Regions from separate parts of the Homo sapiens genome. Here region 1 is linked to region 2. Evidence: fine-mapped expression QTL. A gene starts in region 2. The other region holds a variant in brackets. All regions are shown on one strand. Distances are between the middles of the regions.

Region 1 (11,696 bases), 27 kb after region 2:
TCTATTAAAAAAAAAAAATTAGGAGGTGGAGCCAAGATGGCCGAATAGGAACAGCTCCAGTCTACAGCTCCCAGCATGAGCGACGCAGAAGACGGGTGATTTCTGCATTTCCAACTGAGGTACCGGGTTCATCTCACTGGGGAGTGTTGGAAAGTGGGTGCAGGACAGTGGGTGCAGCGCACCAAGCATGAGCCAAAGCAGGGTGAGGCATCGCCTCACCCAGGAAGCGCAAGGGGTCAGGGAATTCCCTTTCCTAGTCAAAGAAAGGGGTGACAGACGGCACCTGGAAAATTGGGTCACTCCCACCCTAATACTGCGCTTTTCCAATGGTCTTAGCAAATGGCACACCAGGAGATTATATCCCGCGCATGGCTCAGAGGGTCCTACGCCCACGGAGCCTCGCTCATTGCTAGCACAGCAGTCTGAGATCAAACTGCAAGGTGGCAGCAAGGCTGGTGGAGAGGCGCCCGCCACTGCCAAGGCTTGAGTAGGTAAACAAAGCAGCCAGGAAGTTCGAACTGGGTGAAGCCCACTGCAGCTCAAGGAGGCCTGCCTGCCTCTGTAGACTCCACCTCTGGGGACAGGGCACAGCCAAACAAAAGGCAGCAGAATCCTCTGCAGACTTAAATGTCCCTGTCTGACAGCTTTGAAGAGAGTAGTGGTTCTCCCAGCATGCAGCTGGAGATCTGAGAATGGACAGACTGCCTCCTCAAGTGGGTCCCTGACCCCTGAGTAGCCTAACTGGGAGGCATCCCCCAGTAGGGGCAGACTGACACCTCACACAGCTGGGTACTCCTCTGAGACAAAACTTCCAGAGGAACGATCAGGCAGCAACATTTGCTGTTCACCAAAATCCGCTGTTCTACAGCCTCTGCTGCTGATACCCAGGCAAACAGGGTCTGGAGTGGACCTCCGGCAAACTCCAACAGACCTGCAGCTGAGGGTCCTGACTGTTAGAAGGAAAACTAACAAACAGAAAGGACATCCACACCAAAACCCCATCTGTACGTCACCATCATCAAAGACCAAAGGTAGATAAAACTACAAAGATGGGGAAAAAACAGAGCAGAAAAACTGGAAACTCTAAAAATCAGAGTGCCTCTCCTCCTCCAAAGGAACACAGCTCCTCACCAGCAACAGAACAAAGCTGGACGGAGAATGACTTTGACGAGTTGAGAGAAGAAGGCTTCAGATGATCAAACTACTCCAGGCTAAAGGAGGAAGTCCAAACCCATGGCAAAGAAGTTAAAAACCTTGAAAAAAAATTAGACGAATGGCTAACTAGAATAATCAATGCAGAGAAGTCCTTAAAGGACCTGATGGAGCTGAAAACCAAGGCATGAGAACTACGTGACGAATGCACAAGCCTCAGTAGCCAATTCGATCAACTGGAAGAAAGGGTATCAGTGATGGAAGATCAAATGAATGAAATGAAGCGAGAAGTTTAGAGAAAAAATAATAAAAAGAACACAGCCTCCAAGAAATATGGGACTATGTGAAAAGACCAAATCTACATCTGATTGGTGTACCTGAAAGTGACGGGGAGAATGGAACCAAGTTGGAAAACACTCTGCAGGATATTACCCAGGAGAACTTCCCCAACCTAGCAAGGCAGGCCAACATTCATATTCAGGAAATACAGAGAATGCCACAAAGATACTCCTTGAGAAGAGCAACTCCAAGACACATAATTGTCAGATTCACCAAAGTTGAAATGAAGGAAAAAATGTTAAAGGCAGCCAGAGAGAAAGGTCGGGTTACCCACAAAGGGAAGCCCATCAGACTAACAGCTGATCTCTCGGCAGAAACTCTACAAGCCAGAAGAGAGTGGGGGCCGATATTCAACATTCTTAAAGGAAAGAATTTTCAACCCAGAATTTCATATCCAGCCAAACTAAGCTTCATAAGTGAAGGAGAAATGAAATACTTTACAGACAAGCAAATGCTGAGAGATTTTCTCACCACCAGGCCTGCCCTAAAAGAGCTCCTGAACGAAGCACTAAACATGGAAAGGAACAACTGGTACCAGCCACTGCAAAAACATGCCAAACTGTAAAGACCACTGAGGCTAGGAAGAAACTGCATCAACTAATGAGCAAAATAACCAGCTAACATCATAATGACAGGATCAAATTCACACATAACAATAATGTAAATGGGCTAAATGCTCCAATTAAAAGACACAGACTGGCAAATTGGATAAAGAGTCAAGACCCATCAGTGTGCTGTATTCAGGAAACCCATCTCACGTGCAGAGACACACATAGGCTCAAAATAAAGGGATGGAGGAAGATCTACCAAGCAAATGGAAAACAAAAAAAGGCAGGGGTTGCAATCCTAGTCTCTGATAAAACAGACTTTAAACCAACAAAGATCAAAAGAGACAAAGAAGACCACTACATAATGGTAAAGGGATCAATTCAACAAGAAGAGCTAACTATCCTAAATATATATGCACCCAATACAGGAGCACCCAGATTCATAAAGCAAGTCCTTAGAGACCTACAAAGAGACTTAGACTCCCACACAATAATAATGGGAGACTTTAACAACCCACTGTCAACATTAGACAGATCAACGAAACAGAAAGTTAACAAGGATATCCAGGAATTGAACTCAGCTCTGCACCAAGCGGACCTAATAGACATCTACAGAACTCTCCACCCCAAATCAACAGAATATAATTCTTTGCAGCACCACACCGCACCTATTCCAAAATTGACCACATACTTGGAAGTAAAGCACTCCTCAGCAAATGTAAAAGAACAGAAATGATAACAAACTGTCTCTCAGACCACAGTGCAATCAAACTAGAACTCAGCATTAAGAAACTAACTCAAAACCGCTCAACTACATGGAAACTGAACAACCTGCTCCTGAATGACTGCTGGGTACACAACGAAATGAAGGCAGAAATAAAGATGTTCTTTGAAACCAACGAGAACAAAGACACAACATACCAGAATCTCTGGGACACATTCAAAGCAGTCTGTAGGGGGAAATTTATAGCACTAAATGCCCACAAGAGAAAGCAGGAAAGATCTAAAATTGACACCCTAACATCACAATTAAAAGAACTAGAGAAGCAAGAGCAAACACATTCAAAAGCTAGCAGAAGGCAAGAAATAACTAAGATCACAGCAGAACTGAAGGAGATAGAGACACAAAAAACCTTTCAAAAAAATCAATGAATCCAGGAGCTAGATTTTTGAAAAGAACAACAAAATTCATAGACTGCTAGCAAGATTAATAAAGAAGAAAAGAGAGAAGAATCAAATAGATGCAACAAAAAATGATAAAGGGGATTATCACCACCGATCCCACAGAAATACAAACTACCATCAGAGAATACTATAAACACCTCTACGCAAATAAACTAGAAAATCTAGAAGAAATGGATAAATTCCTCGACACATACACCATCCCAAGACTAAACCAGGAAGAAGTTGAATCCCTGAATAGACCAATAATAGGCTCTGAAATTGAGGCAATAATTAATAGTTTACCAACCAAAAAAAGTCAAGGACCAGATGGATTCACAGCCGAATTCTACCAGAGGTACAAGGAGGAGCTGGTACCATTCCTTCTGAAACTATTCCAATCAATAGAAAAAGAGGGAATCCTCCCTAACTCATTTTGTGAGGCCAGCATCATCCTGATACCAAAGCCTGGCAGAGACACAACAAAAAAAGAGAATTTTAGGCCAATATCCCTGATGAACATCGATGCAAAAATCCTCAATAAAATACTGGCAAACTGAATCCAGCAGCACATCAAAAAGCTTATCCGCCACGATCAAGTGGGCTTCATCCCTGGGATGCAAGGTTGGTTCAACATACACAAATCAATAAACGTAATCCAGCATATAAACAGAACCAAAGACAAAAACCATATGATTATCTCAATAGATGCAGAAAAGGCCTTTGACAAAATTCAACAACTCTTCATGCTAAAAACTCTCAATAAATTAGGTATTGATGGGACATATCTCAAAATAATAAGAGCTATCTATGACAAACCCACAGCCAATATCATACTGAATGGGCAAAAACTGGAAGCATTCCCTTTGAAAACTGGCACAAGACAGGGATGCCCTCTCTCACCACTCCTATTCAACATAGTGTTGGAAGCTCTGGCCAGGGCAATCAGGCAGGAGAAGGAAATAAAGGGTATTCAATTAGGAAAAGAGGAAGTCAAATTGTTCCTGTTTGCAGATGACATGATTGTATTTGTAGAAAACCCCATTGTCTCAGCCCAAAATCTCCTTAGGCTGATAGGCAACTTCAGCAAAGTCTCAGGATGCAAAGTCTCAGGATACAAAATCAATGTGCAAAAATCACAAGCATTCTTATACACCAATAATAGACAGAGAGCCAAATCATGAGTGAACTCCCATTCACAATTGCTTCAAAGAGAATAAAATACCTAGGAATCCAACTTACAAGGGACGTGAAGGACTTCTTCAAGGAGAACTACAAACCACTGCTCAATGAAATAAAAGAGGATAAAACAAATGGAAGAACATTCCATGCTCATGGGTAGGAAGAATCAATATCATGAAAATGGCCATACTGCCCAAGGTAATTTATAGATTCAATGCCATCCCCATCAAGCTACCAATGACTTTCTTCACAGAATTGGAAAAAACTACTTTAAAGTTCATATGGAACCAAAAAAGAGCCCACATTGCCAAGTCAATCCTAAGCCAAAAGAACAAAGCTGGAGGCATCACGCTACCTGACTTCAAACTATACTACAAGGCTACAGTAACCAAAACAGCATGGTACTGGTACCAAAACAGAGATATAGACCAACGGAACAGAGCAGAGCCCTCAGAAATATTGCCGCATATCTATAACCATCTGATCTTTGACAAACCTGATAAAAACAGGAAATGGGGAAAGGATTCCCTATTTAATAAATGGTGCTGGGAAAACTGGCTAGCCATATGTAGAAAGCTGAAACTGGATCCCTTCCTTACACCTTATACAAAAATTAATTCAAGATGGATTAAAGACTTAAATGTTAGACCTAAAACCATAAAAACACTAGAAGAAAACCTAGGCAATACCATTCAGGACATAGGCATGGGCAAGGACTTCATGTCTAAAACACCAAAAGCAATGGCAACCAAAGCCAAAATTGACAAACGGGATCTCATTAAACTAAAGAGCTTCTGCACAGCAAAAGAAACTACCATCAGAGTGAACAGACAACCTACAGAATGGGAGAAAATTTTTGCAATCTACTTATCTGACAAAGGGCTAATATCCAGAATCTACAATGAACTCAAACAAATTTACAAGAAAAAAAACAAACAACCCCATCAAAAAGTGGGCAAAGGATATAATAGACACTTCTCGAAAGAAGACATTTATGCAGCCAAAAGACACATGAAAAAAATGCTCATCATCACTGGCCATCAGAGAGATGCAAATCAAAACCACAATGAGATACCATCTCACACCAGTTAGAATGGTGATCATTAAAAAGTCAGGAAACAACAGGTGCTGGAGAGGATGTGGAGAAATAGGAACACTTTTACACTGTTGGTGGGACTGTAAACAAGTTCAACCGCTGTGGTAGTCAGTGTGGCGATTCCTCAGGGATCTAGAACTAGAAATACCATTTGACCCAGCAATCCCATTACTGGATATATACCCAAAGGATTATAAATCATGCTGCTATAAAGACACATGCACATGTATGTTTATTGCAGCATTATTCACAATAGCAAAGACTTGGAACCAAGCCAAATGTCCAACAATGATAGACTGGATTAAGAAAATGTGGCACATACACACCATGGAACACTATGCAGCCATAAAAAATGACGAGTTCATGTCCTTTGTAGGGACATGGATGAAGCCGGAAACCATCATTCTCAGCAAACTATCGCAAGGACAAAAAACCAAACACCACATGTTCTCACTCATAGGTGGGAACTGAACAATGAGAACACATGGACACAGGAACGGGAACATCACACACTGGGGCCTGTTGTGGGGTGGGGGGACGGGGGAAGGATAGCATTGGGAGATATACCTAATGTTAAATGACGAGTTAATGGGTGCAGGACACCAAGATGGCATATGTATACATATGTAACTAACCTGCACGTTGTGCACATGTACCCTAAAACTTAAAGTATAATTTAAAAAAAAAATTAAAATTAGCCAGCCATGTAGTCCCAGCTACTCAGGAGGCTGAGATGGGAGGACTGATTGAGCCCAGGAGCTCAAGGCTGCAGTGAGCCGTGATTACACCACTGCACTCCAGCCTGGGTGACAGAGTGAGACCCTGTCTCTTAAAATAAATAAATGGAAAAAAAAAAGAACAGGCTGATCTGGAGGCAGAGCAGGTCAGCAATCTCAGGAGGATGAGGCAAGAGGTTGCGTCAGCTTGGAACCATGACAGCCACTCCAAGGCATATCCCCCAGGGCACCTGACCTGCAGCAAAGGAACCTGGGAGAGCAACTTAGGCCAAGGATTCCAGGGGCAGGAAAGGCGAGCTAATTATTTTTTTTTTATTCATTCTTTTCTGACCATTAACATAATAAGCATGCTTATTCCAAACCAAAACAGAACTTTTGCTCTCTCCACTAAGCCTGCCGCTCCCGCATTCCCCATCTGGGTAAATGAGTCCACCATCCACTCACTCACTCCAATCCAATGCAGACATCACCCTTGACCAACATATATCTCTCTCTCCTCTCTCTTTCCTCCTCCCCCCGCTCTCTCTCTCTATCACATCCTTCATCCAATTCCTAGCTCCTCTCTTTCACAACAGAGTCTGAATCCAACCCCTTCCCCCCTCCTTCCACAGTAACCAAATTCACCATCCTCTCTCACTCACGTCCCTGGAGGCTGCCAGCCTTCTGCAGCCTGTGCTCCACCCGAATGCTGGAGGATTCCGTTAAACCTACATTAGGGCTGTGCGTGGTGGCTCATGCCTGTAATTCCAGCACTTTGGAAAGCTGAGGTGGGAGGACTGCTTGAGTCCAGGAGTTTGGGACCAGCCT[G/C]GGCAACACAGAAAGACCCCGTCTCTATATATTTAAAAAATAAAATAAAATAGAAAATGTTAAAAAAAACAAAACAAAACAAAAAAAAACCACCTACATTTGATCATGATTCTCATGTGTTCAGTTCCCTCCAGGGGTGCCCGAGGCCATATCAAGTCCCAGGCTCAGCCCCTCACTTTCCCTCTGAACTCATCTCAGGTCCCTTCCCCATTGTCCGCTGTAGCCAGAGCCACCCTGGCTTCTGCAAGGTTCTGGAACATGCTGAGCCTGGCCCTATTCCCAGCCTCTGCACAGACTGTTCCCTCTGCTCTGTCTCCCTACCCTACCCTGCCATGTTCTCTTCCTTGTTATTCACATCTCCCCTTAAATGTCACCTTCTCAGAGAGGCCCCCTCTGACCATCTATCACATCAGCTTAATTTTCTGCACAAAGATTTTAATTCATGTATTCATTTTCCATTTCCCCCCATTAGAAGATAAGCTCCATGAGAGATAAACTTCATCTTGTCTCATTCACCGTTATTTCCAAGGATCCACCATATTAAACCATCAAATGAGTAGAAAACTTAGAAAGTACAGATGAATATGAAAACGAAAGCAAACCTTACCATAATTTCCACCATTCAGCGATACCCAATGTCACCACATTCCTGCAATTCCTCCCAGTCTTTTTTCTATATACGCATATATTAAACATTTGGGATTGTAATATTTACAGTGTTGTGCTCTGCCTTTATTTCCCATGAAGGGCGTTATTCTAACTAATTTTAGATGGAGAGAAAAGTTGCAAAATAGTACAAAGAACTCCTTTCCACTCCTGGCCCTGCTTCTCCTAAAGTTGACATCTTACGTAACCATAGTATAATGATCAAGAACAGGAAATTAATATTGATACAATGTTCTTAACTATACTACAAACCTTATTTAAGTTTCCCCAGTGTTCCATTAATATCCTTTCTCTATTCCAGGAGCATATACAGGATCCCACATTGCACTGAAGTTGACATCTTATGTAACCATAATATAATGATCAAGAACAGGAAATTAATATTGATACAATGTTATTAACGATACTACACATATTATTTAAGTTTCCTAGTGTTCTATTAAAATCCTTTCTCTATTCCAGGAGCCCATCCAGGATCCCACATTGCATTTGTATATTTTCCTTTGTCTCCTCCAGTCTGTAATAGTTCTTGTTTTTTCCTTGTCTAACACGATCTTGATGCTTTTAAAGAGTTTTTTCCAATCAGTTATTTTGTTGAATGTCCCTCCATTTGGGTTTGTCTGGTGCTTTCTTAATACTGGAGTCAAGTATGCATTTCTGGCAAGGATACCACACCAAAAAAACAAATGATGCTGCCAGGCATGATGGCTCACACTGTAATCCCAGCACTTTCAGAGGCCAAGGCAGGCAGATCACTTGAGCTCAGGAGTTCAAGTCCAGCCTGGGCAACATGACAAAAGCCCTATTCTACAAAAAATACAAAAAATGGCCGGGCGCGGTGGCTCACGCCTGTAATCCCAGCACTTTGGGAGGCCGAGGCGGGCGGATCACGAGGTCAGGAGATCGAGACCATCCCGGCTAAAACGGTGAAACCCCGTCTCTACTAAAAATACAAAAAAATTAGCCGGGCGTAGTGGCGGGCGCCTGTAGTCCCAGCTACTTGGGAGGCTGAGGCAGGAGAATGGCGTGAACCCGGGAGGCGGAGCTTGCAGTGAGCCGAGATCCCGCCACTGCACTCCAGCCTGGGTGACAGAGCGAGACTCCGTCTCAAAAAAAAAAAAAAAAAAAAAAAAAAAAATTAGCCAGCCTGGTGGCACACACCTGTAGTCCCAGCTCCCCGGGAAGCTGAGGAGGATCACCTGAGCCCAGGAGGTCGAGGCTGCAGTGAGCTGTGATTGCGCCACTGCATTCCAGCCTGGGTGACAGAGTGAGACCCTGTCTCAAAAAAAAAAAAAAAAAAAAAAAAGATGCTGTCCTCAGTGCATCTTTGTAAAGGCTTCATGATGTCACTACGTCTTATTACCTTAATCACTTATTAAGCTGGTTTCTATGGGGTTTCCATCTCCACTGTCAAATTAGTTAATTTCTTTCCCTTTTTACTTGATAAGTATATTAGGGGAAATAGAAACTATGCAAATCTTGTTTTTCCTCAAACTTCTGTCCACTAATTTTAGTATCAACAGGTAAATCTTGTCTGTGATTTTATATATATATATATATATATTTTTTTTTTTTTTTTTTTTTTTTTTTTTTCCCTAGACGGAGTCTCCCTCTGTCACCTAGGCTGGAGTGCAGTGGCACGATCTCGGCTGACTGCAAGCTCCGCCTCCTGTGTTCACGCCATTTTCCTGCCTCAGCCTCCAGAGTAGCTGGGACTACAGGCGCCCGCCACCATGCCCAGCTAATTTTTTGTATTTTTAGTAGAGACAGGGTTTCACCGTGTTAGCCAGGATGGTTTCGATCTCCTGACCTTGTGATCCGCCTGCCTCGGCCTCCCAAAGTGCTGGGATTACAGGCGTGAGCCACCGCACCTGGCCTGTGATTTTTTAACTGTGGTGTTTATGTAATGGCAAGTCTCTGTTTCCCTCTTGCCTTTTGTGTGTATTAACTGGAAATCTACCATAAGGAAGCACTCCCTTTCTTCCCTGTTTACTTATTTCTTCAACTGTTTATATCAGCATGGATTCGTGGATATTTATTTTAGTCTATGTGTTAGAATCCAATACTAACATAATTTATTTTGTTCCTCAAACTGTTCCAGCTTTGGCCGTTAGGAACTTCAGGCAAGCTCCTCAATTCCCTTGACATGGCTCCATCATCCCCCCACATCCCTGCACTTTCTTTCTAGCACCACAAGATATTCCAGGGTCATCCTGTCATTCCCCTGTGGCATCCCTGGAATCAACCACATCTCCTAGGAGACCTGGTTCCTTTTGCAGGAGAATGATGTTTGGAGACCAAGAACTGGGTACCGGGTGTGCTCACTGTTACTGGGTGCCATTGCCTCTAGACACACTCAGGACAGAGCTAGGAAACATAAGTATGTATACTAAGCACACATAAACACACACACACACACACACACACATCTATATTTCTGTATCCATCTATATATAATTTTATTTATTATTTATTTAGAGACAGGGTCTTCCTTTGTTACCCAGGCTGGAGTGCAGTGGTACAATCACAGCTCTCTTCAGCCTTGAACCCCTGGACTCGATCTATTCTCACATCTCAGCGTCCCAAGTAGCTGGGACTACAGGCGCACACCATCACACCTGGCTAATTTTTGTATTTTTTGTAGAGATGGGGTTTTGCCACATTGCCCAGGCTGATCTCTAACTCCTGGGCTCAAGCTATTCACCTGCCTTGGCCTCCCAAAGTGCTGGGATTACAAGAGTGAGCCACCAGAGCCTAAAATTTTAAAATCATGAGTTTAGACTGACACCTCCTATTCTAACCCAGCACCACGGGGTTTATTCTAGACCCCTATCATTTGTAACCTCTTTCACTAACAGTAAGAAATCCAGCCCTCATAGTCTACAATCTATTTACTTGTTTGTTCAACTTTAGTATACATAGTTTCAGAATCACTAACCTATACTCCTGTGAGAAACATTTTTTTTTGCCCATTGCAACCTCTGCCTCCTGGGTTCAAGCAATTCTCAGCCTTCCGACATAGCTGGGATTACAGGCGTGCACCACCACGCCCGGCTAATTTTTGTATTTTTAGTAGAGACAGGGTTTCACCATGTTGGCCAGGCTGGTCTCTAACTCCTGACCTCAGGTGATCCGCCCATCCTGGCCTCCCAAAGTGCTGGGATTACAGGTGTGAGCCACCACGCATGGTCGAGAAACATTTTTAATAACTATACTACAACTTTTATGTACAGAAATTTTTGCCTTTACTCTTACCATATCCAGTAAAGATACTGTTTTCCACAGTTATTTGTTAGTTCTGTTCTTTCCTGCCCCCTTCAGTATGGTTATGTTACTCACCTGCGGTATGGTGGAGTTCATCTGTAATTTTGTTTTCTGTTTTCCCTACATCCTGGTTGCTCTTATTTATTTTGGCAGTATGTGAAGGGTATGTGAAACATTGCTACATCACAGTATGTAACAGTCAGTTATAGAAAAAGACATTTCAGGCTGGGTGCAGCGGTTCACTAATCCCAGTACTTTGGGAGACCAAGGTGGGCATATCACTTGAGAGCAGCCAGGCCAAACTGGGGAAACCCTGTCTCTACTATTAGCCAGGCGTAGTGGCACACACCTGTAATCCCAGCTACTCAGGAGGCTGAGGCACGAGAATCACTTGAGCCTGGGAGGTGGAGCTTGCAGTGAGCCAAGATCACACCACTGCACTCCAGCCTGGGTGACAGGGCGAGACCCTGTCTCAAAAAAATAAATAAATAAAATAAAAAGATATTTCAAAGAAGTGTCATTCCCTTCTCATCCCTGTAGCCCAGTCTCATCCTTCCCTTCTTTCTAGCCTTTACCCACCAACCTATTTTGTCTCTGGGCGTCCTTCCTATATTTCCTTTGCATCTGTGTATTTTCTTCTATCGGTTTTCTTTTTATTTTTCGAGATGGAGTTTCATTCTTGCTGCCCAGACTGGAGTGCAATGGCGCAGTCTCGGCTCACTGCAGCCTCCAACTCCTGGGTTC
Region 2 (11,696 bases):
GAGCTTCCTGTTTCCTATCTGTGAGGTAGTTCAGCTTGTGGGCAGAGGCTTCAGAGGAGAGGAGGGACAGTCAGCCCTCACTACCAGAGGCTCCTGCAGGCAGCGGAGTGAGGTGCTGCTCTCCTTCTCCCCCAGGAGCAGCCAGGATAGAGTCCGTGGGCCTGAGCCCAGACCCTCCTCCATTTATTTAGGGAGCAACAGCTCACAGGGCAGCACGGGCAGAGAAGGAAGGGGTGTGGCAGGCCTGGGCTCCAGCTCAGTGTCCTCTCTCTCTGTCCACAGTAGCACGATACAACCGCACCAGCTACTTCTACCCCACATTCTCAGAGAGCTCGGAGCACAGCCATCTGCTCGTGTCCCCCGTGCTGGTGGCGAGTGCCGTCATAGGTGTGGTCATCATCCTCTCCTGCATCACCATCATTGTGGGCAGCATCCGCAGGGACAGGCAGGCCCGGCTTCAGCGGCACCGCCACCGCCACCACCGCCACCACCACCACCATCATCACCACCGCCGGCGTCGACACCGAGAGTACGAGCACGGCTACGGTGAGCCGCCGCCCACCCTGGGGCCCTGGGACCTCATCTGACTGGGATTGCAACACAGGAGGCATCAAGGAGTTGGCAACTCTGCCCTGGGTGGAGCAGGGTGGTCGGGAAAGCATCCTAGAAGTCTTGGGTGGTCAGGAAGAGCTCACAGGCGCCCACCATAATGTTCTCGGTGACATGAGAGGCCCGGATGACTGCTAAGAGAGAAACTCAGAGTGAGGCTGAAGGTCAGAGGGAGAGTGTGTCACTCCTCCCCTGCCACTGTTGGTCCAGGCTGCACCAAGGGCTGGTCCATCTGGTGTCTCGATGGATGGATGGATGGATGGATGGATGGATGGATGGATGGATGGATGGTTGGGTGGAGAGATGAGTGGATGAATGAAGAGAGGAATGGATGGGTGAGAAGGGAGAAGGACTCGTAGGAAAATGGATGGGTGAGGAGTGAGGTGATGGATAGATGGAGGTTGAGTGGAAGAGTCAGTGGATGGGTGGAGAGATGGATGGGTGGAGAGTATGAATGGATAAATGGGTAGATGAAAGGATGGATGAATGAGAAAATGGAGGGATGGATAGATGGGTGGATTGAGTGTTATGCCTGAGTGGAGAGATGGAAGGGAGGGTTGAGTGGAGGAATGGAAAGATAAATAGGTGGGCAGTGGGATGGGTTGATGGGGGTGAATATATGAATAAGTGAATGGGTGAATTTATGGAATGAATGATGAGTGAATAAAACTATCCCTGGTGAGAGTCAGCAGAGTGCAAATAGAACTGATCTGAGGGTCTCCCAGTTGTTGGGATCACCCTTAAACAGAGTTGGTGGCTAATTCTTGGGTGACCAGTCCCAAATCTGTGCATGTGGCTAGAATGCCTGAACTTTTTACAGAACGCAGCCACCTGACTGTGTCACTCCTGGAAGGGGCCAGCTGTCTAAGGCAGCAGGAAAAAATTCAATTGCATTCCATTCTCAGACGATTTTCAATGGCAGGAAAAAGCCAGACTCTTCCTTCCCAAATCACCATCCACAGGCCTTCAGGGGCCTCTGCCTAGGTCCAAGGCCACCACCAGATAGGGAAAAGAAAAGCAGGACCTTGGAGGTGCTTAACAGCAGTAGGCACCCTTCACACTGCAGGGTGAAGTGATGCCAACCTCCTAGGAGCCAGAGCCATGGCCAGACCTGAGGCGTTTCCCTCTCCAAGGCAGGAAAAGCTTGGGGAAAAGAAAGATAGGAAAAATTTTTAAAATAGATTGAATTGGATCCGATCAGCCCTGGCCTTTGGGGCCCCTCCTCCCCCTCCCAGACACACCCTGATTAGCCAGGTTTGGGGTATTTCCTGTCCTTTTTCAGAGTTAACTGGTTAAGGAGGGGACTGATGGGTAGCTGGAGCTGGTGAACAGGAGCCTGGGTAGTAATGGCCAGTGAGTAAGGAGTGCTTGCTGGGTGCCTGGCGCTGTCTGTGCACATAATCTCACTGCAAAATCCTCACCATGGTCCTAGTGAGATGATAACTCACTTGAGCCCAGGCAGCCTGACCTGGCACCCACAGGCTGCCCCGCTGCACAGCACTGCCCAGGAAGGGAGCTGGAGGTGTCGGGGAGACGCCCCTGGGAGCCGCCCCGTGGGCTCAAGGCAGTGTCCGGCAGACACGTACATGGCCACAGTGGGTGTCACTCAGACCTGGATGTTGCTCCCCTGGGAAAGCTGTTAGGAGAATCAGAAGAGCAGGAGGCTGGACCTTGTGTAAGACACAGAGGGACATCCCGGGATGAGTCGGACAAGTGGCCACAGTTGAGGAAAGACACAGCAGGCTAGTGGACTGTTCTCACTGTCCAACAATGAGGATCAAAGAGAAAGTTCAGCATGAATAAAACAGATGTGGAAAGCTCAGCCCACCCAGTCTCTGCAAGTCTCCCCAGAAGCCAGGGACTCCCCAAGGAGACAAGCCAGAAGCACTCCCAGGCCAGGACGGGCCTGTCCCACCCCTGCATCACCAACCTGAGGCTGCAGAGTCCAGGGCTCCTGCCCAGAGCATGCCCATCCCCTGCAAGAGAAACCCAGGTCCCCAAGCCCTGGAGGATGCCGGGTAGACCCAGGATGGTCAGTCTGCCGCCTGCCCCTCGCACAGCCTGGCCCTTGCCCAGCTCCTCCCACTCTTTTCCAGTCCCCTGTCCATGCTCCTTCCAGCCTCTGCCCTTTGCCTGGGCTCTTCCCTCTGCCCTGACTGCCATTCCCTGGCCTTCTCGAACCGAAAAAAAGCCTTCCAGGCCCCGCTCAAAGGCTGCCTCCTTATGGGAGCTTGTCTGGCCTCTCCTCACACCTACCAGGCAGAGCTGGATAGGTGTCCCCCTCCTCTGTACCTCCTCGGCATTGCACCCATGCCTCCCTCAGTGTCTTGGTCATGGGGTGATTGTGCTGCATCCATGAGAGCAGGGCCCACAGGTGACTCGTCCCCAGACAGGCTCAGGCCTGGAGGAAGCGCTCCATGGGCAAGGTAGGAGCCACTGTATTTTATCCTCAAGGCAAAAGATGTAGTTGCCCCCTTTAAAGACTAGGAAACTAGTCAGGTGCGGTGGCTCATGCCTGTAATCCTAGCACTTTGGGAGGCTGAGGCGGACGGATCATCTGAAGTCAGGAGTTCAAGACCAGCCTGGCCAACATGGCAAAACCTTGTCTCTACTAAAAATACAAAAATTAGCTGGGCATGGTGGCACATGCCTCTCATCCCAGCTACTCAGGAGGCTGAGGTACAAGAATCGCTTGAACCTGGGAGGCATAGGTTACAGTGAGCCAAGATCATGCCACTGCACTCCAGCCTGGGTGGCAGAACGAGACTCTGTCTCAAAAAATAAAAAGTAAATAAAGAATAGGAAACTGGGCTGGGTGCCATGGCTCACACCTGTAATTTCAACACTTTGGGAGGCCAAGGTGGGAGGATCACTTCAGACCAGGAGTTTGAGACCAGCCTGGGCAACACAGCAAGACCCCATCTCTACAAAAAAAATGTAAAAATTATCCAGGTGTGATGGCACATGCCTGTAGTCCCAGCTATTCAGGAGGCTGAGTCGGGAGGGTCCCTTGAGCCCAGGTCAAGGCTTCAGTGAGCTATGATCTCACCACTGCATGCCAGCCTGGGTGACAGCAGAGAGAGACCCTGTCTCTAAAAAAATAAAAAAATTAAGACTGGGAAACTGAGGCACAAAGAAGCAACTTGTTCAATGACTTATCTTGGAGTGCACGCTAGGCGCCCACAGTAGTTCCCAAGCTGAGAGGGCTGAGGGGTTGGCCTTGGCGCAGAGGAAAGAGATGGGCTTAGGGGCAGGCCAGCCCCTCTGTAGCCTGTGGTGGCCTCGGGACTGGTGCCAATGAATGAGGCCTCGGCTCTGTCCCTGGGGTGGGTGGGATGACTGAGGTCACAGCTCTGCCAAGCGGGGTCAGGCCTTGGCTTCCCCACTGCAGCCTGTGGTGGTGGTGACCCCTGTGGGGTTCCGGCCTCCCTGCCCCACTTCTGCACTCGGCTACAGCTTTGACACCTCCTGGGGCCTCGGCAGGGAACCCAGAGGTGCTGTTGCCCCATATCTTCCCCCAGCCTTCTGGAGGATGCGCAGGGGCTGCCGGGAGCCTTGGGAGGGTGCCAGGGAAGAGGGAAACGCACTGTGAGCAGCTGTGGGAGAACATGAAAGCGGCACCACCAGGCGCGGTGCCTCACACCTATAATCCCAGCACTTTGGGAGGCCAAGGTGGGAGGATAGCTTGAGCTCAGGGGTTTCAGGCTGCAGTGAGCTACGATCACACCATTGCACTCCAGCCTGAGCAACAGAGCAAGACCCTGTCTCTAAATAAATAAATAAATAAATAAATAATAAATAATAAATAAAGAGGGAGGGGCAGTGTACCAGTGAACCCCAACCTTTGGCACTGGGCCCCTTCCACCTGTCAGACACACTCACAGCCCCCCAGCTCTGGTGACTCAAGCCCTCCTGGCCTCTCTCCCACCCCTCTGGCTGCGGATTCCTCTCCTCTGTCCCTTTATAAGTCAAGGTCCCTCAGATCCCACACCTTGGTCCTGGTCCTCTCTCTACACCCACTCCCTGCTCCATCTCATACACCATCCATCATCCTCCCTTACCTAGCTCCAGCCCGCAGGTCAGCTCCAGAACTGCATGCCCAGAAGTCCCCTGGACATCACCCTGTGAAGCCCCACAGGCACCTCAGGCTCCAGGTGTCCACAGAGGCCTGATTTCCTACTTCCTATGCGCATCCTCAGGAAAGCTGCCAAAACTCTCTTTGCCTCAGGCGAGTCATCTATAAAACTGGTGCAAGAGGATCCACCTCAAACAGTTATTGTGAGGACTAAATTAGCACAGCACCTGGCTAATGGGTAAATACATGCTCAATAAATGTGAGCTATTTTCATCATCTCTTTCTCCAAGAAAACCTGCTCCCAGGCCACTGCACTAATGTCAGCTGTCCCTGCCTGCCAGCCACCAGCCTGGCACCTCCAAGGCATTCTCCACAAGGCAACCAAAGTGACAGGACTGTGACCACTTCCCAATGGCTCCCCATCACCCTCAGGACAGAGTTGGCCCTCTGCCTGCCCACAGAGCCTTTCTGTAGTCTAGCCAGACACAGAGAGGAGCCACAAATCTTTGAGAATGAGATGGGGGTGGGGGAGGAAGAAGAAAGAGGGAGGGAGAGAGGGAGGGAGAGAGGGAGGGAGAGAGGGAGGGAGGGAGGGAGGGAGAGAGGGAGGGAGGAAGGGAGGGAGGGAGGGAGGGAGGGAGGGAGGGGAAATAGAGAAGAGAGAAAGAAAGAAGAAAGAGAAGAGAAGAAAGAAGAGAGAGAAAAAAAGGAGAGAAAGAAAAAGGAAAAAGAAAGGAAAGAGAAAGAAAGAAAGAAAGAAGAAAGAAAGGAGAGAGAAGGAAAGAAAAGAAAATTCTGTCATTCTGTTCCATCTTGAGCTTTAAGAGAGATCTGGTGGCTGACTCTGTCTCCTGTCACTTCTGCAGGTTTAGAGCAAGTGACTTCACTCTCGGTCTCTTCATCTGGTGGAAGGGGTAACCACTGCTCTCCTCCCACAGTGGGGTGTGAGGTAGATGAGATCATAGAGATTGAGCACAGCAGGTGCTCATGAGTGCCAGTTCCTCTTCCTCCCTCTCCCAGAGCCTGTCAAGGGGCAGTGAACTTGGAGTGATGTTAAATAATGAACCAAGGTATCGGGGTAAACAGGAGGTTTCAGCTTATGTGAAGTGGGAAGCAGGGCTTCCGGAGTCCTGGACTATTTGGATCTGTGCCGACAGGGAAGTCAGGAGAGAAGGGAAAAGAAGGGATTTGGGAAGTTCAAATGGGAGTGGCGGGTGCAGGTTTCTTTCCAGCTGTCTCTCAGGAGCTCTGCCCAGCTGGATGTCTCAGGTTTGGGGTCTGAGCACCTTAGGGCAGCCTCAGTTTTCCCAAGATGCTCCCCTCTGGGAAGTCCAAGAAAAAGCAGCCCAAGAAGAAAGGGTAGATAGCAGTTTGCTCCAGCTCTAACAGCCCTCAGCGCTGCCCACCCAGTCACTCCTCTCAGGTCCAGGAAGCAGCCCTGACTTTCCCCAGGGATCCCTGTGTGACAGGCACACCTGCTGCCCTGCAGGTGGAACCCTCCCTGAACCCAAAAACCCTTCCCTGGCAATGCTGGCTGGTGGGGCGAAGGGGTACCTGGCACCCAAGCCCAGCAGCCCTGGTTCAACTTCCAGTCTCACCTTGTTGCTGTGTGCTGTTGTCTTTTCTTAGTTTCTTTCCTAAGTTCTTCCAAAAATTCTGTCTCTCAGCTGGTGCCCTGAACAGGAGAAACAAATGGCATTTCAGCTCCTTTTTTACAGCATATGTTATTGACTTCATTTCTCCTAGTAGAAAAGTAATGTGTGTTCATTATAGAAAACCTTAAAAATATAGACAATATAAGAAAAGAAATATAAAGAAATAAATAGGCCAGGCGCGGTGGCTCACGCCTGTAATCCCAGCACTTTGGGAGGCCGAGGCGGGCAGATCACGAGGTCAGGAGATTGAGGCCATCCTGGCTAACACGGTGAAACCCGGTCTCTACTAAAAATACAAAAAATGAGCCGGGCGTGGTGGCGGGTGCCTGTAGTCCCAGCTACTCGGGAGGCTGAGGCAGGAGAATGGCGTGGACCCCGGAGGCGGAGCTTGCAGTGAGCTGAGATCGCGCCACTGCACTCCAGCCTGGGCGACAGTGAGAGACTCCGTCTCAAAAAAAAAAAAAAAGAAAGAAAAGAAAAAAAGAAAAAGAAATAAGGGTCATGATCCTCTGTCATCTGGACAGGGCCACCATCAACGTGTTTGGAATATTTTCTTCTGAGAGCTTTCTCGGTGTCGGTATATAACCCTGGGATTGGAATTGTACCTGCAGATAGAGTTTCATATCCAGATTCTTCCACTCACTATTATATGAAGAGTGGGAAAAAGAGTTTAGGGGAGTGGGAAGAGCAGTCTTTGGGGTTATACAGAGTGCATAAATTACAACTCCATGCTTCACCACGTATGTGACCCTGAGTATCAGCTTCCTTGTCTGTAGAATGGGGATGGCAACTGCGCCACTCACAGCAGAGAAAGGTTATAGCTCCGCCCCTGATGCCAAGCCCCACCCCCAGAGGGGAGGAGGCACCTGGGAGCCCTGGACTGAGGAGACCTCGTGTCTCAGCCACCTTTGCAGCTCCCACTGTTCCCATCCAGGACGATACATGTCAGAAACTGGGCTGTAGAGAGCTTAGCAAGGAGGAGCCAAGACATCCAGCTGCCCTCTGGCCCAACCACTCACTGTGTGTTGTCCTCCAGCAAGTCACCGGGCCTCCCAGAACCTCAGCTGTGGAATGAGAGGATTGTGCTCCAGCAGCATTTCCTAAACAGTGTTACTAGGTCTAAGAAAGGAAGATTCTGAGGTCGAATGCTGGACAGGCACAGTTAAATGTGTTTTTTAGCTGCAGGACTTTTCAGAGCCTTTGATGTCCTGGTGCATGGTAAAAAATGCAGAGGAGAATGCAGTGTGGGGAGCTGCCAGACTCATCATAGAAGCCCCTTTTTTTCCCCAAGATACCTAAAGGGCAGTGAGTGTGGGAGGGCTGATCCCAGAGTTCTCTGAAGCCCTCATTCCTTGCTACTCTCCACCGCATTTTCCATGCCCAGCCCAACTCCACAGCTCAAAGCTCCCTGTTCACACCACACTCTTCTTTCTTATCTCCCTCCTTGGAAAGCTATTCAGTTCCCTCCTCCCGGCCTTCCCCTCTTCCCCTGGTTAAATCCTAGACAAGACTCAGCTGTAGCAGCCCCTCCTCCAGGAAGCCCTCCCTGACTTCCAGACTGGTCAGGCCTGCCTTTACTCCCACAGTCCCAGTAGGACCTCTACCAAAGCTCATGACACACTGCCTAGTGCCAGGTTATCCCCAAAGCAGGCTGCCACCACCTTGGGAGCTGGCCAGGACAGGGCCAGCTCTGCTTCCTCTCTGTATCCCCATGCCCAACACGACAATGGCACCCACATTCTGGAGCTGTCACTGATGGATGAAGGCAGCTGTGCTTGGTGAGGAGAGGAGTGGTCAGGTGGGGAATCAGAGCCTCCATGGCCCCAGGTAGACCTACAGACCCATAAGGACCATCCCTGGATCCTGGTCTGAGGCCCAGGCCGGTGGTCTGTTCCCTGCAGTGTCGGACGAGCACACATACAGCCGCTCAAGCCGCAGGATGCGCTATGCCTGCAGCTCCTCAGAGGACTGGCCCCCACCCTTGGACATCAGCTCTGACGGGGACGTGGATGCCACGGTGCTCAGGGAGCTGTACCCAGATTCTCCACCAGGGTAAGGAGGCCTCATGGGGAAGGGGGCATCAGAGGATGGGGCCCTGGACACAAAGACCCCCCAACTCCATCATGGGAAAGAGTGGCACCTCTGCATGTCGTATAAATGCAGAAAACATCTGCTCAGTGGGCATGGCCACCTCCTCCCCACTCCTGACCAAGTAGGTCCCACTGAGGCAGTGTGACTTAGCAGATATCACCTGGAAGTGCTAGGAAAGGAAGAGACAAGCCCACCTCCTCAGGCTGTTGAGTAGGCATGCCGGGAATGCCCCTGCAGTTTCAGGGGAGGTTCCGTGGCAGCTGTTCTGAATTCCCTGGGGATCTGCTCCTCCGGGTGTCTCCCTCAGGGTGGGAGGGAAGGCCAGAGGAGTATCTGGCTATTTCCGTGGCTGTGGGATCAACTTCCCCCTAGGGAAAAAAAACTGTATTGTGTTTCTATAAATAACACCAGGGACTGGGGGGTAAAGAGGGGACAAGCCCATATGCTGACATCTGATGGCCCCAGGTGCACTCGCTCTGGAAATTGTTTCTTGTATGATCATGAGCAAGTTACTTAATCCCGCTGTGCCTGCTTCTCCATTGTGGAAATGTCCATGTAATAATACCTGCCCCAGCCGGGCGTGGGGGCTCACGCCTGTAATCCCAGCACTTTGGGAGGCTGAGGTGGGGGATCACGAGGTCAGGAGATCGAGACCATCCTGGCTAACACGGTGAAACCCCATCTCTACTAAAAATACAAAAAATTCGCCGGGCGTGGTGGCGGGCGCCTGTAGTCCCAGCTACTTGGGAGGCTGAGGCAGGAGAATCGCTTGAACCCGGGAGGCGGAGGTTGTAGTGAGCTGAGATCGCACCACTGCACTCCAGCCTTAGCGACAGAGTGAGACTTCGTCTCAAAAAAATAATAATAAAATAATAATAATAATATCTGCCCCACAGGATACTCATGAAAATGACACAGAAGTGCCAGTAAAATGCTCAGCAAGGCACTGGCTCTTCCCACCAGTGGTGTCGTTACTATTTCGAGGCCACAGGTGATAACTATCATGCTGAGGAGGACGAGGGGAGGGGATCAGGGAGGATGGGCTGACACAGGAAATCGGCCTTTGTCAAGGGTGTGTGGTGCTTGGGTTGGGAGGAACTGGGACCTTCAGAGATACAGAGGAGGGTGTGACCAGCAGAGGGCACAGATGAGCAAAGGCCCAGAGGCAGGCGAGCACGCGTGTGCCACGCTACAGAGGGCACAGTGGGGTTTGACCTCCTCTCCCCTTCCCCTGCCCTGGCTTTCCAGTCATACCCACCTGGGTTTGAGCCCATCCTGGACGCCGCCCAGGTTGATGCTCTCAGGCATGTCACTGTGGCTCTCAGGGGCTCCATTTCTTTGTTTATGAAATAAGGACAAATAACCCTGCTTCCTGGGTTTTCCTGGGAAGGAAGATACTGTGGGTATCTGGGGATGTGGCTCAGGGTTAGACCTGAGCCCTTGGTTCCTGAGGCCATAGCCTGAGGACACAGGCACCTCCCCCATCCCCAGCTGCCTCTGCCCGGTGCAGCTCATCTAAAGGACAGGAACAGGTGGGGCTGCTTCTGATGGAGGTGGAGGTGCACAGATGCCCTGGGGGTGCCTGGGAGCCAACTTCTCCCTGAGTCAGAGCAGAGGGTTGGGTTGGCCTCAGGCACGAGGGGATGCCCCAGCTGCAGGCCTCCATTGTGGTCAGGCACCCCCAAGGCTGGTTGGGTCCAGTGCCTGGACAGGGCTGGGTAGGCATGAGGCAGGGGTGGAGAGGGGTGGGGAAGGTGGGGGCACGACTACGAAGACAGAGGTGATTCCCCCTCCAAACACACACACACACATACATGCACACACGAACACATACACGCACACACCTTCCGAGACCTCCCAGGCAACAAGGGTCTGGCTGAGCCTGGGGTCTCTGTGGCCTCACCTGTAGCCACTGAGGCAGAGACTGGCCTTAGGGATCAAGACGGGTTCCTCTCAGAGAAGTGGGGGGTCATGGAGCCAGAAGGAGGGAGTTATGCCCTCAGCTCCTGAGGACCCCAGAGACAGTGGCAGTGGGAAGAGAAAGGACAGGTGGAGCTTGTGGCCAGGAGGGCCCTGTGCCTGTGATCATGCCCACAGGAGTGGCTGTGTCCAAACTGCCCTCAGGGCCCTCAAGCAGCCCCCTCCCCATGGGGAGCTCTTCTCTGGAGGGCTTTTGTTCCTCTCCTGCCAGCCCCCCTCAGGCAGATCACCCATCAGTACTCGAAGAGGGAAAGGGGTCAGGGCCTCCACCATTCCCTGCTAGGAGACCCCTCCAGCCCTGGATGAATGGCCCGTGTCCTCCTCCTTGGCCTTCCACCTTCACCCCTGCCCCAGGGGCTCGAGCAGGGGTGGTGCTGCCAGTCCTTTCGGGGCAATGGGTGCTCTTTTGCTCTGCATCTGTGGGTTCAGAGGGGCCCAGGGGACTCTTTCCTAAACTGAGAAGGGGAACTTTGGAGTGGCTGGAGACCAGGGTGTCTGGTAGCCTGAGGTTGGTCCTACCCAGCCTCTGCACACCCAGTGCGCTGCGGGGAGATGCTCCCTAGACAGTGGCCACTGCTGTTTCGAGGCACCGCAGACCCAGGCAGCTCAGTGTTCATGCGTTGAGCTCACACCGCATATGAGGGCTGAGTCAGGTCCCAAATCCAGGTCCCAGGGTTCTGAGGTCCCCCTCTGGAGATGGAGGGAAGTAGCAGGGTTTCATTGGAGCCAGCGTGGACAAGGCCCACCCTGGTCCACAGCCAGGACAGCTTGTCACTGCAGATAGACCCCCAGGCCTTTGGGAGAGACCCAGCCCTAAGGCCTAGGTGGGGCACTGAGGGAGCCTCTTCTCTCGTAGCTACGAGGAGTGTGTGGGGCCAGGGGCCACTCAGCTGTATGTCCCCACGGACGCACCACCACCCTACTCGCTGACTGATTCCTGCCCCACGCTGGATGGCACCTCCGACTCAGGCAGCGGCCACAGCCCTGGCCGACACCAGCAGGAGCAGAGGACCCCGGCCCAAGGTGGCCTTCACACGGTCTCCATGGACACCCTTCCCCCCTACGAGGCTGTGTGCGGGGCTGGCCCCCCATCAGGCCTGCTGCCACTGCCGGGCCCAGACCCAGGGCCAAGGGGCTCCCAGGGCTCACCCACCCCAACCCGGGCCCCAGCCTCTGGCCCAGAGAGGATTGTGTGAGGGACCCAGCCAGCCGGGTCCTGCTGGTCCCTACAGGCTGAACCACATTCTTTAGGCACACAAAGGCGTGCACACACACACAGAGATGCA

Evidence for each region. PIP is the estimated chance that this variant, and not a neighbour inherited with it, causes the effect.
Region 1: its variant is the best candidate, but not a certain one, in a credible set for the expression of BEAN1-AS1 in whole blood (INTERVAL, PIP 0.75).

Annotation. Positions count from the first base shown.
Region 1 is chr16:66,495,962-66,507,657 of GRCh38, forward strand. No RefSeq gene overlaps it. Among named protein-coding and RNA genes, the nearest start is that of BEAN1-AS1, 25 kb to the left of the region's middle. The variant G/C (reference allele first, on the strand shown) is at 7,023.
Region 2 is chr16:66,469,320-66,481,015 of GRCh38, forward strand. It overlaps BEAN1-AS1 (BEAN1 antisense RNA 1), which reads right to left and starts at 7,083. Exons shown (of 3, transcript NR_109960.1): 1 at 6,945-7,083; 2 at 6,283-6,359; 3 at 477-743. It overlaps BEAN1 (brain expressed associated with NEDD4 1), which reads left to right. Exons shown (of 5, transcript NM_001178020.3): 3 at 283-546; 4 at 8,241-8,391; 5 at 11,267-11,696. The coding sequence ends at 11,606. It overlaps LOC124903698, which reads right to left. Exons shown (of 5, transcript XM_047435016.1): 2 at 9,689-11,100; 3 at 8,625-8,798; 4 at 6,283-6,359; 5 at 1-743. RefSeq lists a silencer at 7,154-7,253 and enhancers at 7,759-8,300, 8,841-9,381, 10,463-11,002.